4 linked regions of the Homo sapiens genome follow. The protein of the gene in region 3 purifies or fractionates together with the protein of the main gene of each other region. This does not show direct contact. Each region holds a gene or a part of one and is shown on either strand. Other genes may lie near its edges. The genes, in order: UQCC1, WDR36, CLMN and TAOK2.

Evidence for each region.
Region 1: the proteins of CLMN (region 3) and UQCC1 purify together in Homo sapiens (affinity purification with mass spectrometry; one large-scale study listed by BioGRID and IntAct). This does not show direct contact.
Region 2: the proteins of CLMN (region 3) and WDR36 purify together in Homo sapiens (affinity purification with mass spectrometry; one large-scale study listed by BioGRID and IntAct). This does not show direct contact.
Region 4: the proteins of CLMN (region 3) and TAOK2 purify together in Homo sapiens (affinity purification with mass spectrometry; one large-scale study listed by BioGRID and IntAct). This does not show direct contact.

Annotation. Positions count from the first base shown.
Region 1 is NC_000020.11:35,401,563-35,405,818, reverse strand, and holds part of UQCC1 (ubiquinol-cytochrome c reductase complex assembly factor 1), read left to right. Parts: intron 1-4,256. UniProt on the Homo sapiens protein: Required for the assembly of the ubiquinol-cytochrome c reductase complex (mitochondrial respiratory chain complex III or cytochrome b-c1 complex). Involved in cytochrome b translation and/or stability.
Region 2 is NC_000005.10:111,101,629-111,105,884, reverse strand, and holds part of WDR36 (WD repeat-containing protein 36), read right to left. Parts: intron 3,541-4,256; coding exon 3,486-3,540; intron 2,100-3,485; coding exon 1,967-2,099; intron 1,709-1,966; coding exon 1,533-1,708; intron 1,189-1,532; coding exon 1,068-1,188; intron 591-1,067; coding exon 525-590; intron 1-524. UniProt on the Homo sapiens protein: Part of the small subunit (SSU) processome, first precursor of the small eukaryotic ribosomal subunit.
Region 3 is NC_000014.9:95,187,409-95,190,908, forward strand, and holds part of CLMN (calmin), read right to left. Parts: 3' UTR 1-3,500.
Region 4 is NC_000016.10:29,976,449-29,980,704, reverse strand, and holds part of TAOK2 (serine/threonine-protein kinase TAO2), read right to left. Parts: intron 2,968-4,256; 5' UTR 2,933-2,967; coding exon 2,801-2,932; intron 2,617-2,800; coding exon 2,545-2,616; intron 2,454-2,544; coding exon 2,352-2,453; intron 1,907-2,351; coding exon 1,861-1,906; intron 1,732-1,860; coding exon 1,635-1,731; intron 1,511-1,634; coding exon 1,397-1,510; intron 1,289-1,396; coding exon 1,197-1,288; intron 1-1,196. UniProt on the Homo sapiens protein: Serine/threonine-protein kinase involved in different processes such as membrane blebbing and apoptotic bodies formation DNA damage response and MAPK14/p38 MAPK stress-activated MAPK cascade.

The sequences.
Region 1 (4,256 bases), on a different chromosome or scaffold from region 3:
CCTCCCGGGTTCAAGCGATTCTCCCGCCTCAGCCTTCTGAGTAGCTGGGATTACAGGTGCCTGCCACCACGCCCGGCTAATTTTTGTATTTTTAGTAGAGATGGGGTTTCACCATGTTGGCCAGGATGGTCTCAAACTCCTGACCTCAGGTGATCCCCCTGCCTTGGCCTCCCAAAGTGCTGGGATTACAGGTGTAAGCCACCGCACCCGGCCACTTTCTTATAGTTCTTTAGACATATTTTCATTTAGATCTTTGAACATATTTGAAATAGTTAAAAATCTCTTTGTCTGCTGCCTGGGTTTTCTTAGAGACAGTTTCTATTGATTGCATTTTTTCCCCCTGTGTATGGGCCATACTTTATTGTTTCTTTGCATGTTTTATAACTTTTTGTTGTTGAAAACTGGACATTTTAAATAATGTGGCCACTCCGGAAATCAGATTGTTTCCCTTCCCAGGGTTTGCTGTTGTATTTTTGTTTAGTGACTTTTCTGAATTGATTCTGTAGTCTGTATTCTTTGTTGTTTGTGGCTACTGAAGTCTCTGCTTAGATAGCTTAGTGGTCAGGTAATGATTAAACAAATTTCTTTAAATTTCTGTTAAATTTCTTAAAATTCTGTTCTCACTGCCTGGAAGCAGTGAGTATCCCAGTTTTTGCTTTGGGGCTCTGTGTGCACGTTGGGATGTACCTATAACACTCTGCCAGGCATTCGATAACTCTGCCTTAACTTTCACTTCCTGCTATGCAGAACCTCAAGGTCAACCACAAGTAAGAGACATTCTTAGGTCTTTCCTGAGCATGTGCACAGCTTTGGGTATATGCACAGACCTGGGTATGTTCATGGCTTCCTAGATGCCCAGGAATATATTGGGGCTTTTCTAAGCCTCTGTGGACATCTTATTCCCCAGCTTTTCCTTTAAACCTTTTTGGTTAGCCTGTTGTTTTCTCCACCTGTTAATCACTGCCTCAGGAAGCCATGAAGTCAAACAGTTACCTCTATTTGTTTTCAACCGGTGCTCCTGGGGAAAAGGTTTTTTCACACTGGGTGAGTTCTAAGACAGCCTTGAAATAGGGCCTTCTAAGGAACTGTCAGACAGGTTGAATAATGCCAGTTCTTTTTTTTTTTTTTTTTCAGAGTCAAGCTTCTTTTTTTTTTATACTTTAAGTTCTAGGGTACATGTGCACAACGTGCAGGTTTGTTACATATGTATACATGTGCCATGATGGTGTGCTGCACCCATTAACTCATCATTTACATTAGGTATATCTCTTTTTTTTTTGAGATGGAGTCTTGCTTTGTCACCCAGGCTGGAGTGCACTGGCGCAATCTCAGCTCACTGCAAGCTCCACCTCCCGGGTTCACGCCATTCTCCTGCCTCAGCCTCCCGAGTAGCTGGGACTACAGGCGCCTGCCACCATGCCCGGCTAATTTTGTTTTTTTTTTTTTTTTGAGACGGAGTCTCGCTCTGTCACCCAGGCTGGAGTGCAGTGGTGCAATCTCGGCTCACTGCAAACTCCGCCTCCTGGGTTCACGCCATTCTCCTGCCTCAGCCTCTCCGAGTAGCTGGGACTACAGGCACCCGCCACCACGCCTGGCTAATTTTTTGTATTTTTAGTAGAGACGGCATTTCACCGTGGTCTCGATCTCCTGACCTCGTGATCCGCCCGCCTCGGCTTCCCAAAGTGCTGGGATTACAAGCGTGAGCCACTGCGCCCGGCCACGCCTGGCTAATTTTTTGTATTTTTAGTAGAGATGGGGTTTCACCATGTTAGCCAGGATGGTCTCGATCTCCTGACCTTGTGATCCGCCCTCCTCGGCCTCCCAAAGTGCTTGGATTACAGGCATGAGCCACCACGCCCGGCCTAGGTATATCTCTTAATGCTATCCCTCCCCGCTCCCCCCACCCCACGACAGGCCCTGGTGTGTGATGTTCCCCTTCCTGTGTCCAAGTGTTCTCATTGTTCAATTCCCACCTCTGAGTGAGAACATGCAGTGTTTGGTTTTCTGTCCTTGTGATAGTTTGCTGAGAATGATGGTTTCCAGCTTCATCCATGTCCCTACAAAGGATATGAACTCATCCTTTTTTATGGCTGCATAGTATTCCATGGTGTATATGTGCCACATTTTCTTAATCCAGTCTATCATTGTTGGGCATTTGGGTTGGTTCCAAGTCTTTGCTATTGTGAATAGTGCCTCAGTAAACATACGTGTGTGTGTGTCTTTATAGCAGCATGATTTATAATCCTTCGGGCATATACCCAGTAATGGGATGTCTGGGAATAATGCCAGTTCTTTGTAAGGCTTTGATGAACATCATCCCCATTCTGGAGTCAACTTGTCTCCTGAGGAGACTAGTTCCTTTAGTGGTTGTTGCTATTTAGAAACCACATCTGGGTGCTACATGTGCTTATTGCTACTGGAGTGTCATCTGCAGGCCCTACCAGGACGTGGGTAGGAAATATATATATGTCTATATATACACATAAACATGCATATATCTTTTTCTTTATATATTAAAAGCCCACACCAGTTATTCTAATCTATTCTAATACCACAGGGTTTGTTCTACTCTTTTGCCTTGCCATATTTGTTAACTCCTTTCTCTGATAGAAACCTGACCCCTCACCCTTAATGTATTTATTGATTTATTCAAATCTTTCCTGTATGTAATCAATCTTTTGAAAGCTCAGATTGAAAACTCCCAAAAAAGTGGGAGGAGGCAGTGTATAGGTAATTTTTTTTTTTTTTTTTGAGACGAAGTCTCGCTCTTGTCCCCTAGGCTGGAGTGCAATGGCGCGATCTCAGGTCACTGCAACCTCCGCCTCCCGGGTTCAAGCAATTCTCCTGCCTCAGCCTCCCAAGTAGCTGGGACTGCAGGTGCATGCCCTCATGCCCAGCTAATTTTTTTGTATTTTAGTAGAGATGGGGTTTCACTGTGTTGCCCAGGCTGGTTGCAAACTCCTGAGCTCAGGCAGTCCGCCTGCCTCGGCCTCCCAAAGTACTGGAGTAATTTTTTGTTATTGTTTGAGATGGGGTCTCACTCTGTCACCCAGGCTGGAGTACAGCAGCATGATCTCTGCCTACTGCAACCTCCGCCTCCCGGGTTCAAGCGATCCTTGTGCCTCAGCCTCCTGAGTAGCTGGGATTACCAGCATGCGCCACCATGCCCGGCTAATTTATATATATTATATATATATATATATTTTGTTTGTTTGTTTGTTTGTTTGTTTGTTTGTTTTTTGAGATGGAGTCTCGCTCTGTCGCCCAGGCTAGAGTGCAGTGGTGCGATCTCAGCTCACTGCAAGCTCCGCCTCCCAGGTTCACGCCATTCTCCTGCCTCAGCCTCCCGAGTAGCTGGGACTACAGGCGCCCACCACCACACCCGGCTAATTTTTTGTATTTTTAGTAGAGACGGGGTTTCACCATGTTAGCCAGGATGGTTTCAATCTCCTGACCTCGTGATCTGCCTGCCTCGGCCTCCCAGAGTGCTGGGATTACAGGCGTAAGCCACCGCGCCCGGCCTATATTATGTATTTTTTAGTACAGACGGGTTTCACTGTGTTGGCCAGGCTGGTCTCGAACTCCTGACCTCAAGTGATCCACCCACCTCAGCCTCACAAAGTGTTGGGATTACAGGCGTGAGCCACTATGCCCGGCCTGTATTCAGTAATTTTTGAAGGAATGGTTAAACATTCTCTTCTTCCCTCTGTGGAAATATCCTTTTGTATTATAGCATGCCACATTGTAACTGGAAGGAAAGTTTGTTACCGTAGTATCTGTTCTTTGGACTCCGGAATTGAGTTAGTATCCATGGCATTTGGAATATAGGCACCAGTGGTGACTTATAAAGTGGATTTCGGCTGGGCATGGTGGCTCATGCCTGTAATCCCAGCACTTTGGGAGGCTGAGGCTGAGGGATCACCTGAGGTTGGGAGTTCGAGACCAGCCTGACCAACATGGAGAAACCCCGTCTCTACTAAAAATACAAAATTAGCTGGGCGTGGTGGCGCATACCTGTAATCCCAGCTGCTCGGGAGGCTGAGGCAGGAGAATCACTTGAACCCAGGAGGCAGAGGTTGCGGTGAGCTGAGATTGCGTCATTGCACTCCAGTCTGGGCAACAAGAGTGAAACTCTGTCTCAAAAAAAAAAAAAAAAAAAAGGTGGATTTCATGTTTATAATTGATTTTCGTTATTCACAGATTCTATATTTGTGAACTCACCTAGTTGCTAAAATTTATTTGAAACCCCAAAATCA
Region 2 (4,256 bases), on a different chromosome or scaffold from region 3:
TATTTTAGATATTGTTAAAAATAATCTTAAAATTTATATACATGCATGAACAGTATAAGATAGTAACTTAAAAATTAGTAATCATAAAACCAAGTAAGATTTTGTTGTTTAATAAACAAAATCTTTCAAAGGCTGGAAACCATGAAAAGGGAAAGAGAATAAATGATTGCTTTAAAGCAAAAATATTGGATGCCACTTACTTTGATGCTTTCTCTAAGCTACCTTCCATTTTAAAAACTGTGCACTCTACAGATAGCTCAAGTGAGGCCATGAACATCTTTTGGGTGGCAGCAGTATGTTTTTACCACCCAAGATGTCTAACTTTTTTCAATAACCTTATAGCAGAACCTCAATCACTTCTATAGCAACTTTGATGCTAGGAATCTTACTACCTCTTCCATACATGTTTATCTAGTTCATCCAAGAAAAAATAAAATGCATTGATGAAACTTCCTCCAGTTGTTTCATAGAATGTTGAAATGTTTCTTTCGTGACCAGCTTATTTTGTCTTGTAGAGGACCTACCATGTCCCAAGCTCTTATTGAATTTTTCATGTACCGTGGAAAATGACTGAAGAGTTCCATCTTGACCTGTTGATATACACAGAAAATCCCTAATCAAGCTTCATTAAAACAAGGGACTATGTGAATCACAAATTTTATAAAATTCAATTTGAAAATCTTGAAGTTACAGTTTGGGACACTTTAAAGGGAAAACCAGATTGCAACTACTTCATTAAAATATTCAACTTTTTATAGAATGCCATTTAGTAAGAACAAAGGATAAAATGAAAATGAGGTACTAATAATTTTCAGCAGACTAACAGAATTTTTAGAATCTAACCATTCTGTCTCTGAGGATTAGTAAATAGAAGGACACATTAAGCATAGATAATAACATCTATAGTGCTTCTCAAGTAGACAAAAAGGACTCTTAGTTTTACCCAGACTTCTAAGTCACTCAAAGAGATATGTGAATCTAAGTATGTGTAAATATCAAACCTCATACTGGGCACCCACATCTCAATACTTGCTGAAATAAACTAATAGTATGAAGCAGAAGCTCACTTGCACTTAGAATCTGCTGTCCATTCTGTCCATAATATCTGATATTGGTAAGAGGAGCACTATGACCCATTCTGAATCTCAAAAGTCGGCCTTCACCTGTAGGACCATCAAATATCCATATCTGCCAAGAAATAAAAACGTCAGTTCTTCTACAATGTTCCATCTGATCTGCAAGCAGTCAAATCACCCCCTACATAAATCAACTGGTATTGAGTAGTGCTTGCTAAGCCACTGACTCTGGAGCTACAAGGGAGGGAGTGGGTATTGGGGGAGAAATAAACTGTAATTCTTTCCCGCTTCACTGCAATCATGTCACCTGCTGTGCTTTTTGTTTCATCTATACCAATATCTCATTCCATATTCCTTTCATCTTCTAGGTTGAAAGCTGATACATTAAAACAAGCTTGTAATAACCCAAAGGGTAAGTTAGATGAGCCAGGAAGATGTTAACAATAATCATAATACCCTAAGAGCATTGTCAGCGCCATTTGTGACAAGAAGTGGCTCTCTATGGAGAAATGTCAGTCCGGCAATTGCTGTAGAGTGTGCATTTCTCATTTGGTTGATTAATTTTTTGTCTTCTAGATCCCAGAGTCCAATATGGCCACATGGGCTTCCAGCTGCCATTACTGGATGACCATCTGTTATTAAAATAAAATACATTAAGAAAAATACTTCTAGATCCCCCAAAATAAACAAGAATTCTTCTCTCTTCCCTTTTAATCCATAAAGTTAGAAAAAAACTATATACCAATAATCTATTCATATTTCTTTGCCTTTTACTCCAGTATTCATTCACTTCTATTAGATTAAGCTACCAGAAGACAAAAAAAATTGACTTTTAAAGTAATGAATTTTAAGTGTTCTTAACTCCTATCAATAAGTATGTTAAAAGTTACCTGTGCGAAATGAAATTGAAGTAATGGGTCCCCAGTCTTGACGAAACTTCATTAATGTTTCATTAAATTTAATGTTGTGAATGATAACTTGACCTGACATAAGACCAATAGCAACAACATCCACGGCTGGTGCCTAAAAATTAAATTATTCAAACTTTTACTTTCTTAAGCAAAATAGCTTTAATAATCCTGATGATACGCATCATTATTAGGTGTTATCAAAAGAAATAATGAAGTATCTTCTAAAAGATGGCAGAAAAACTCAGCAAGTATTACCATTCAAGCATACTTTTTTATTCAGCATAGAAGTATTCAGTAATGATTTTTCCAAATTACTTCCCAGCTTCAATTCTGCCAGTCAACATCCCATCCTCATTCCCAAAACCTAGCTGGTAAGATTTTGGAAAGAAAACAACCACAACAGAAAAAGAAAGCTATGTATAAAATCACTACAGATCACTGGACTGGATGGAAACAGAAAAAGGAGACAACTAGAAAACATAAAGGCTTGCGCTATGTGTGGCAACATGTAACCAATTACAAAGGAAGTGAAGAATTGCTTATCCAAGAAAGTAGGAAAAACCTACAAAACATGTGAAAAGGCAAAAAAAGTTTTACAATTAGTCTGTTCCAGTTCTAATATTCTATGGTTATAATGGTCTATAATACAAGTCTTACATACAGGCTCTATTATGAATTTCTCTATTTTAGCAAAGATCAATGTCCAATATCATTATAGAATGGAATCAGGCTACACGTTTTATTAATTTGTCATCAAGTGTCTACTATGCATGAGACCCTGTGTAGAAATTGGAGATACTAAAACAGATATAATCCCTTGTCCTCAAGGGTCCTAATCCTCTGATACTTATGGAGTCTTCTGGATAGGCAAAAGTGGAGCTAGGCTGATGACAGCAAGAGAAGATAAGGAATACATATAAATTGGGCAAGTATAGACAATGGATACTGAAAAAGATAAGGGTATAGTGGCTACATATGTGGCCAATATAAACACAAGATTCGCTGTAGACATGCATTCATTTATTTATACATATTTTGCAGATTCATTAAAAAAAAGCAGTTATTTCTTAAATAGTCCATCATCGAATCAAACATTAGGATTTTGGCTCCAATTACTTCAAACCATAAATCTCAACATCTTGACAAATTTCTCTACATGACTTACAATACCGCTTGCATTGCTGAACACTCATTTCCAGTCTACACAAGACAATGGACTACATATACTTGCAAAATGATTAGAAACAAGGATCCATAGCAACCACAGATTTAAGTCAAACTATAAGCACAAAGGACTCCAATAAGTGTTATTGGCAAAGGCATTATTACTTGTTTTAACTTACATTTCCAAAACACTATTTCCTCAGGCTAACAATTTTAAAGGTAAACTAAGCTATATATTGTTTCGTCTTTACGTCTAAAATTATGATTGATTCCTGAAACTGAAGGATTTTCCTATTAACTTTGTTCCTCTTTGACTTAACAGAAAAATACTAACCTGCTGAAGAGCTGTCACTCCAACTTTCCATCCTGGAAATGTATATAGAAGTTTACTACAAGAAGAAAAATAGTTGAAAGCTGTATTTTTTTTTTTTTGGAGGAAAACAATATCAGCTACACATTAAAAAGTGAAATAATAATAGGTGATATTTATTAAGTTCTTACTCTTCCACACACTATTCTGATGATTAAGCTAATGTCACAAGGTTAGTAATATTGTCCAGACAAATTCTAGGTCTCAAACTAACTACTATGCTATGCCACCTCATTAAGAAATTAAATGTCCTAAGTGGAAAAAAAAATACGTGTGTAAAAATCATGTTATATTACAGGCTACAGTAAAAAAAATTTAGGACTGCAGTATCTTTATAGAAACATCATGAAAGGGAATAACTTATATTTTAATAAAAATATTATTTGCATGTTATATGACTGTTATATGACAACAGTAATGCTGCTCTCAATTTCAGAAGCAAGTCATGAATGATAAATAACACATCCATGGAGCAAACAGAGGTATCTGAAATCATTATAATTATCATTAAAATATTAAATCATGTATTAAATTCTGTAAATGGGCAAAGACAGTATTTCAGTCACTATTGCTGAACCTAGCACAAAGTAGGCAGTCAATGGTATTTGTTAAATTGTAATGAAACACTGATTTAAAACATCAAACCTTTAATAATCTTATTTTCCCTTTTGAATTTAAAAGGACTTTGGAAAAAAACAATTTGGATGGTCAAATATTTTTGTTTGCTTTTTAAAA
Region 3 (3,500 bases):
CCTAAAACCACATGCCTGCAGAGGGGAGGCCACAGAGTGGTCAGCAGAGATGCCCTGTGGCCTCCAGGAGAGGCTTGGGGATTGGAATAGGAGGGATGGGGTGAGACATGGGGCTGAAGACCAGGGCATTTATTGGCTCTGAGGTCCCCTGTCCTTCCCATGCAGCCAGATGACCACTGTGCTCCTACTCCATGGAGAAATCAGAGCAGCTCCAACTCAGGGACACCAGGCACAGCAAAGGTTGAAGCAACTTAATGAAAGTCTAAATACTCACGGGTGATGAGGCTGCCTGCTCAGCGGTCAGGACTCGGGCACACTGAGTATAGACCAGGGTCTCTGGATATGGTCCTACAGTTGTGCATTGCACAGAGGCACTTGGCTAAAGAGGGCAATTAGGAGTTAAAATCTAGCCTTTTCATTGTTCCTCGAGCATTGTCCAAGCTCAGAGCTGGGTATGTCTGGAGGAAGGGGCAAAAGGTGTCCTTTGCCAGTCAAGCCAAGTGCTCATGGGGACTTCTGCCCAGATGGGACACCATTTTTGAAACCACATGAGTACTCAGCATAGGCTAAAAGCCCTGTGTATGCCCGTTTCCCAGGAAGGAGAGTAGTGGGAATATCTCTCAAGAAACAGAATGAGCCCCAGAGAAAACACGTGCAAATACTGACAGGCAGTGTTCTCCAATGATGAGTCCAGGTGCCCACCTGGTGACCCTAGTGGAAAAGCTCACCAGTTGGCACACACAACTTCCAATCAGCTTTTGGATGCCTCACTCTTAAAACATGAACAGATCCATAGGATCACCATATATTTGAGAAAAATTCACAACGTGAAAGATAGAGACTGAGACCACCAAAATAAAGAGAACTCAGAGAAAATGAGGGCAACACAGGGAGCAGAAAAGACTTCCCCTCAGACCACAATCATTAACGTCCACAGAGAGACAAAATCTGCATCCACGCATCAAGAGCAGGACACTGTAAAACAAAGACAGGATAATAACCAAAGGTTTTATTAACTTGGAAAATAAAAATTCAATAAAACATTCAGATTGGGAAGATAAAAATGAATAATTCTTCCTGAAAGCAGATCAGAAACATAGACGAAAAATAGAAAAGATAAAAAATATTAGAGCATCAGCCTGGGTGTAGGGGAGGGTCCAACATTGAAATAATAGGTGGTCCAGAAAGAAAGAATGTAAATAATCACAAGAAAATTTAAGAAATTTCCCATGAAGGCCCAGCACAAGGTTTAACACCCGGGATACAACACCATCATGACAGTTCAGAACACCAAGAATAAAGAGATCTTAAATGTTTCCAGGAAGGGTGGATAAAAAAACCTAAGTCACATATAAAGGTACGGGAATCAGAATGGCATCAGAAATCTCAACCAGCACGCTTGGGAGGGGCTAGGGGAGGGTATTATTTTCCACCTGTCATTCTATGCTCAGCCACATTTCTGTTAAGGGCAGAATACAGACATCTTAAGTCATGCAAAAATCTCAAAATATTTACAACCATATTTACTTCCCATGTTCTCTTCCTCAGGAAGTTATTAAAGAATGTGCCACACCAAAAAAAAAAAAAAAGTAAAGAGAGAGAATAGCAAATTAATGGGGACATTTGGAGGAGAAAGGACATGTAACCATAACACACTGCTGGGCTTGGGAGTCAACAATCCTTAAGTGCTCCAGGTAATGTCAACACCTAATAGAAATGTACTAAATGATGTGATCTAGCTATACTGGAAAACCAAAGCACGGTATGGTAAGAGTGAAATCCTCCTCTACTGTGACAGCAAGCCAGTAGATGTTTCTAAATTAAAAAATAAAGTGTAAGCACGTTATGTAGAAATGCAAACATAAGAGAGTTGAAAGTGGTTACTTCTAAGCAGCGAGACTTAGGGGACTGCTAGTTCTTGTTAAAAGCCTTATTGTATTTCTTTTAATTTAAAAAAAATTTACAAGCAATGGGGTGGTTTGTCCTGCAGACTTCCACATCCATTTTCTATATCCAGCTTCTTCCATAGAAGCCTATACTCAAATGAGATTTTTTTTTCCTTTGCAAAATATCAGTTGACTGCCAACCTGAACCAAATGACTTTCAGGCATCTTGCCAGTAGATGTTTTAAACAATATTACAAGTTGTAATAGGTGAGAGAAGTATCTTGCAGAGGTTTTTCTGAACAAGGTCTAGACCCATAAAATGAAATGATTCACATTTGGGTTGGCTCTTCCCAGGCTCTTCGAGCATCTAATTTAGGCAAGGACTGCATGGTGCCCAGAGTTATAAACTATCACATAATCTTTATTATCTGTACCTTTGAGCTTTCATTGATGCCAGGGAGCTCATTAATTAGCTCATTTTCCATGGGGCTCTTGGCCTTCCAGATGGAATCACTCCAAGCTCCCAGCAGCTTTCTGGTTGGAAGGCTGAAATTCTTTCAGGAGGGGAGACAGACTATAATCAGACTGGTTTAGAGGCCAGATTTTGGCTGTCATCGACTCAGATGTGCTATGTAAATTCTTCTGGCCATGCTGGAATTCTGTAAACTTGAAACCCACTGCTTGAAATGAGCAAGTCCTTGGCTAGCAAAGAAAGAAACGTGATTCCTGGAGTAAGAGCGACGCTGGTATGTCAAATGACAAGCTGTTGCAGCTGTCAAGGGTATTTCAGAAGGAATTGGGGATGAGCTTGAAGGTGAGTAAGAATTCCTCATGGGAAAAATACAAGAACAAAACAAATGTCGATAGTTGGTCTAAACTTTTTGGTTTTGCTTGAATGTGGACATTTTAATCTAGTCATTTTATCTTTTTCTCAGGACATTGGTGTGCCCAGTGGAAGTTTCCTACAAGGGGTGACAGCTCTGGACAGGGCATCAGGTGCCTGTGTGCTCACTGCAAGTCTGCCCCTGGTCGGCTATATGATCTTGGTCAAGCTGCTCTGTCTCTCTGGGTCCAGCTAGACAAGATGCTCACTGAGTCCCCTCCTGACTCATTTGTGATTTTATAAGGGTTGCCTGGTACATGCTTTCTGAAGGGGAGAGCAAGGGGAGGAGGAACCAATGCAGAGACTCACCACGGACCTGAGTCTTGGCAGGGAGGAGAGAGCAGAGGGAGCCTGGGGCTGAGGAAGACTGGGGGCAGGGGTGCTAGAGATGCCTCTCTTCTTTCACAAACCTCCTGTGCTGGCCTGCTCCCGGAGTGCTGTCCAGAAAGCCTCTTCAAGAAACCCATTACAAGTGACCACAAAGAATGCCCGTTCCAAGACATGCATTCTGAGGGAGGTGTGCACCAAAGCTTTAGTGGGCAGGAAGCTACCCCACCACCCAGCTCCAGCACTGCTGGGAGCTGATTCCAGCCCAGCCACTCCTCATGGCTTTTATATGGCCCTGCTGGGCCCTGGCGATCTGGTTTGAAAATCATGGTTCTATCTCAATCCAATCAATGGAAAACTGAATTTCAAGTGTTATCTCCCCTCAAACAAAAAACAAAACAAAA
Region 4 (4,256 bases), on a different chromosome or scaffold from region 3:
CCGTTTCTTACATTTTTCATCAACTGTCTGGGCCTGGCATCTAATGGTAAATGGAGACTGTGAAGATGGAGGAGAAGGGCTCGTCCAAATCTCTGACCTCGGGCAGAGGACCCAATACGAACCAAGGCAAGGAAGTGGAAGAGTTCATGACACACTCAGAGGGTGGAGCCCATGAAGGAAAGGGCCAGCATTTACGAAGCAAAGCCTCTAGGTTGGTGGGAGGAAGGATGGGGATGGCTTCAGTCTTGAAGGCAACAGGGGGCCACTCATGGCTCCAAACAGGGAGTGAAATGACAGCACTGAGCTTAGGCAGACCTCTCTGGCATCAGTACTTAAGACAGACTGGAAGGGAGAAGAGACTGGAGAGATCACTGCAGGAGGCTGTTGATAAGAGAAACTAACAGCAACTCTTAGGCAACTGTTTTGTGCCTGGCATTGTGTTGGAAGCCTTATAAAGGTTACCTACCTCATTAAAGAATTGTTTCAATAGTGCTGGCTGACAGAGATGAGAACCTTGGCATGGCTTCAAGGCCTTAGGAACTCACTTGGACCTAACTCTCTGGCCTTATCCTTCAATATTCTCTGCATTACATGCTAGGTTCCAAATAACTGAAGCTAGTCCCAGTTCCCCAGGCCTGCACTTACCTCTAGGCCTCTCACATGCTGTTCTCTCTGCCTGGAAAGCTCTTCCCTACATTCTGCAAACAGCTATTATTTATCTTGCAGGTTGGCTTCAATATTCTCCTACAAGGAGGCCTTCTTCAGCCCCTAAACTAGGTCAAGTCCCCTGTTTTACATTTGAACCGCTCCTGTAACTTCTCCACACAGCGTTCATCACATTGAAAGAAAACATGCCTGCCTGGTTTCCCTAAATCAAATGTAAGTTCCATGAGGGCAGGATTTTCATTCACTGCTATCCCTCCAGAATCACAGTCCATGGCACAGCACATGGTGGGCACTAAGAAAAGATTCAGAACCAGGGTAGTGGACAGGAAGAGATGAATGCTACAAAATCTCTAGGCCTAAGAGCTGGCAGAATTTGCCAGCTGCCTGTATTGGGCTCCAGGGTAGAGTCACAACGGACAGGAACTTGGAGGCCTGGGATCCCATCCCTAGGAGAAGGGGGTAGTCCGGAGTCTGGGAACTAACAGGAAAGAATGGAAAAGATGATGAGGGAACAGGGAGGATGTTCTTACCCAGCTCGATGCAGGTTATCCCCAAGGACCAGACGTCCACTTTGCCATCGTACTGCCCCTCATCCATGGCCAGGATCACCTCGGGTGCCATCCTAGGAGAATGGTCAGGAGAGAGAGGCAAATCACCCGCCGAGACCCTGTCACTCCTACTCCCAACATCCCTGGGAGGTCTCTCCACTCACCACCACTCACTCACTCACCAGTATGGGGTGCCCACGAAGGAGTTGGCAGGTGCCATGATGGACGCAGAACCAAAGTCCCCTAGCTTCACTAACCCTGGCTCTGACAGCAGGATGTTTCCAGCCTTCACATCCCTGCCAGAGGCAAAGTACAGGGATGAGACATGTGTCTCAAGAAAGCTAGGCAGGGGCAGCCCAGCTAAGTGACAGGTGGTGCAGATAGCACTCCCCTCCCAGGCACTGCCGGTGCTGCTTGTACCTATGGATCATGTTGTGGGAGTGCAGATATGCCAGGCCCTGAAGCGCCCCGTGGGTCACAGCTGCGATCTCTACCTCCTGAAGGGGTTTCTTGTGCACTGGAGAGTGAGGAAGAACATCAACCCGAGGGAGCGCAAGGGTGGGACTGGAATAAACTCCCCTTAACCCTTCCCTATGGCTCCCCTGCTCTTCTCCCTTCTCCACTTATTGGCCTATCAGTCACTTACCTTCTAGAAGGTCAGAAGCTGAGCCCAGGCAATACTCCATTACCAGCTAAGGAAGAGACAAGGGTCAGAGATCAGAGTCTCCTGGGCAGGGACTCAAAACAGAGCTTCCTTGACTGTCCTGTACTCAAGCTATGTCCCCGGGGTGATGACAGGGAGGAAGCGCAACTGGAGACAATGAGGGGGTGGTGGGAGAGTTTCTAGAGTCTGGGCCCAAGACATTCACCACTGCCCATCTGAATCCCTTCAAACTCCCATTCAATCTCCACCTTCTCCAGCCCACAGTGACCTGTCCCACCTGCTAACAGCCTGTGTCACTGAGCCAGGCTTTTGCTCAGTGGGTATGTCTGAGGACTAAAGCGGTCAAAAGAGACTTCCTCCTTCCCAAGATCCCACAACAGCACCACGAACAGGGACCACCTAAGAGACTGGACTACGATAAGGACGGGCATGAATAGGAGTAAAGATCAGGCCAGAATCTGGCACCAGCTCACCCAAGCCGTGTGCTCCCTCAGGTAACAGCCCCGGTACTGAATGGTGTTGGGATGCCGGAGCTTCTGTAAGAACCGCACCTCCTTGATGATGTCTTGCCATTTCTAGGGGGTCAGGGTAGGCAGAGGTTACCCAGCTTGCATCTTGAGACAGGAGTCCCCTGTCCCCAACCTGGCTGTATTGCACCTGGCCCACCTCATTGGACTGCTTCCCACTGTAGGACATCTTCTTGATGGCCACCACCTCACTATTCCGGACATCCCGGGCCTAGAGGACCAGACCAGAAGGTGTTGAAGGCCCCATTGAGAGCCGGGCATGGGAAGACTTGCTGGCCCAGCAAGAGAAGGCAGGAAAGACCAGTGTGATGGAGTAGTGTGCAAGGGCTGTTGGGAAGTCCACAGGGATAGGAAGAGTCCCCATCCCTATTACACCCTCCCAAGACCCAACTCACAAAGTATACGGCTCCAAAGCTGCCATGGCCAATTTCCCGGAGGTCAGAGAAGAGCTTTTCTGGGTCATCCTTGAAGAAGAGCTCAGCCACATCTGGGTCCTTCAGGCTCCCGGCCCGGCCCCCAGCTGGCATGGTGGCCCCTGGGGGCCCTGAGAGTGGGGCCTGGCCTGAGGAATGGAAATGGGACCCTTAGAGATCAAGGATTGAGCCTTCAGGGAGAGGAAGGGACCCATCAAGTTTCTGCCATCTCCTCCCCTCATTCCCTGATGAGGAGGAGGCACTGCTGAGGAAGGGGAGGGGGAGATTAGGAACAACATCAAAGCTCCAAAAAATGAAGTTGCCCTGGCAACCAGATCACGCGGGCTGGGTCCCTGGAGTCCCTAAAACTGCTAGGAAGATTCTGGGAAGCTAAGTATCCTCACCACCCCCTTCAGTGCTCAACAAGTTCTCATTTCCCTATAGCCCCTGTATCTCCCCTCAAGGATAAAACATTCTGCTTCCCAGCCAGCACTCCAGAGCCCCAAGTGTCCTGTCCCATAAGTCCTATACCCCAACTGTTTCCAGGCACCTTTCTGTTCCCCTTGGCGCTGAGGCCCCCTCCTCCCTCAACCTCTCACACCCTGGAAGAGAACAGGAAATGGCCAGGCCGGAGGCGGTGGAAATCCGTCCATTGTTAGAAGTGGGTACTGGCCCAGAGGAGCCCGCAAAGTCACTCTCAAAAAAGTCAGGGGGAGATCTAGAATGGGAAGAATAGGGATATAAATGGCATCTGGCTATGAGGGCCTCTCTGTGCTCTGGGCCACCTTACTTGTCCTGTCCAACTGCATAAGCATCACACACAGGTACAGGACATTTGCAGGGTACAAATAACATTTACTGAGTACCTTACGTGCATTATCTCTATTCAGTCCTCACTACAACCTTATGAAGCAAGTACTATGATTTCCCCTATCTTACAGATAAAGAAACAGGCTCAGCAAGGTTAAGTGCCTTGTCCAAAGCTGGTCCTCCATCACTATGATTTCAGAGCAGCCCTTCGAAACAGGCAGGGCAGAATCATGATCACCATTTCCTAGGTGAGGTCACTGAGGCACAGAGAAGAAAAAGGACTTCTCCAAGGTCAGAGAACAGGACCTTCGGCTCCCCGGTTAGGCCTGTATCCATTACTCTCTCAGCTGTCACCCCAAGCTCAGCTCCCCTCTTGCAGGAAGCCTGTCCTGACCACTCCAGCCATTGGGAAGAGCACCTAGGGCACCCAACCAAACACCCGGAGAAAGTTCCTGCAGGATACCAGAACCAAAACCCTCAAGGAGATTCCAAGACAGGCTCCAGCCTAAGCACTTGTCAGAATTTAGGCACAAAGGAGCCTTCAGCAGAGCTGGACTCCTGGGGCAGAGTTCTAGCTACTCAAAAGCACCTAACAATTTTAGCATGTAATTTATTCTGTCATGCATTG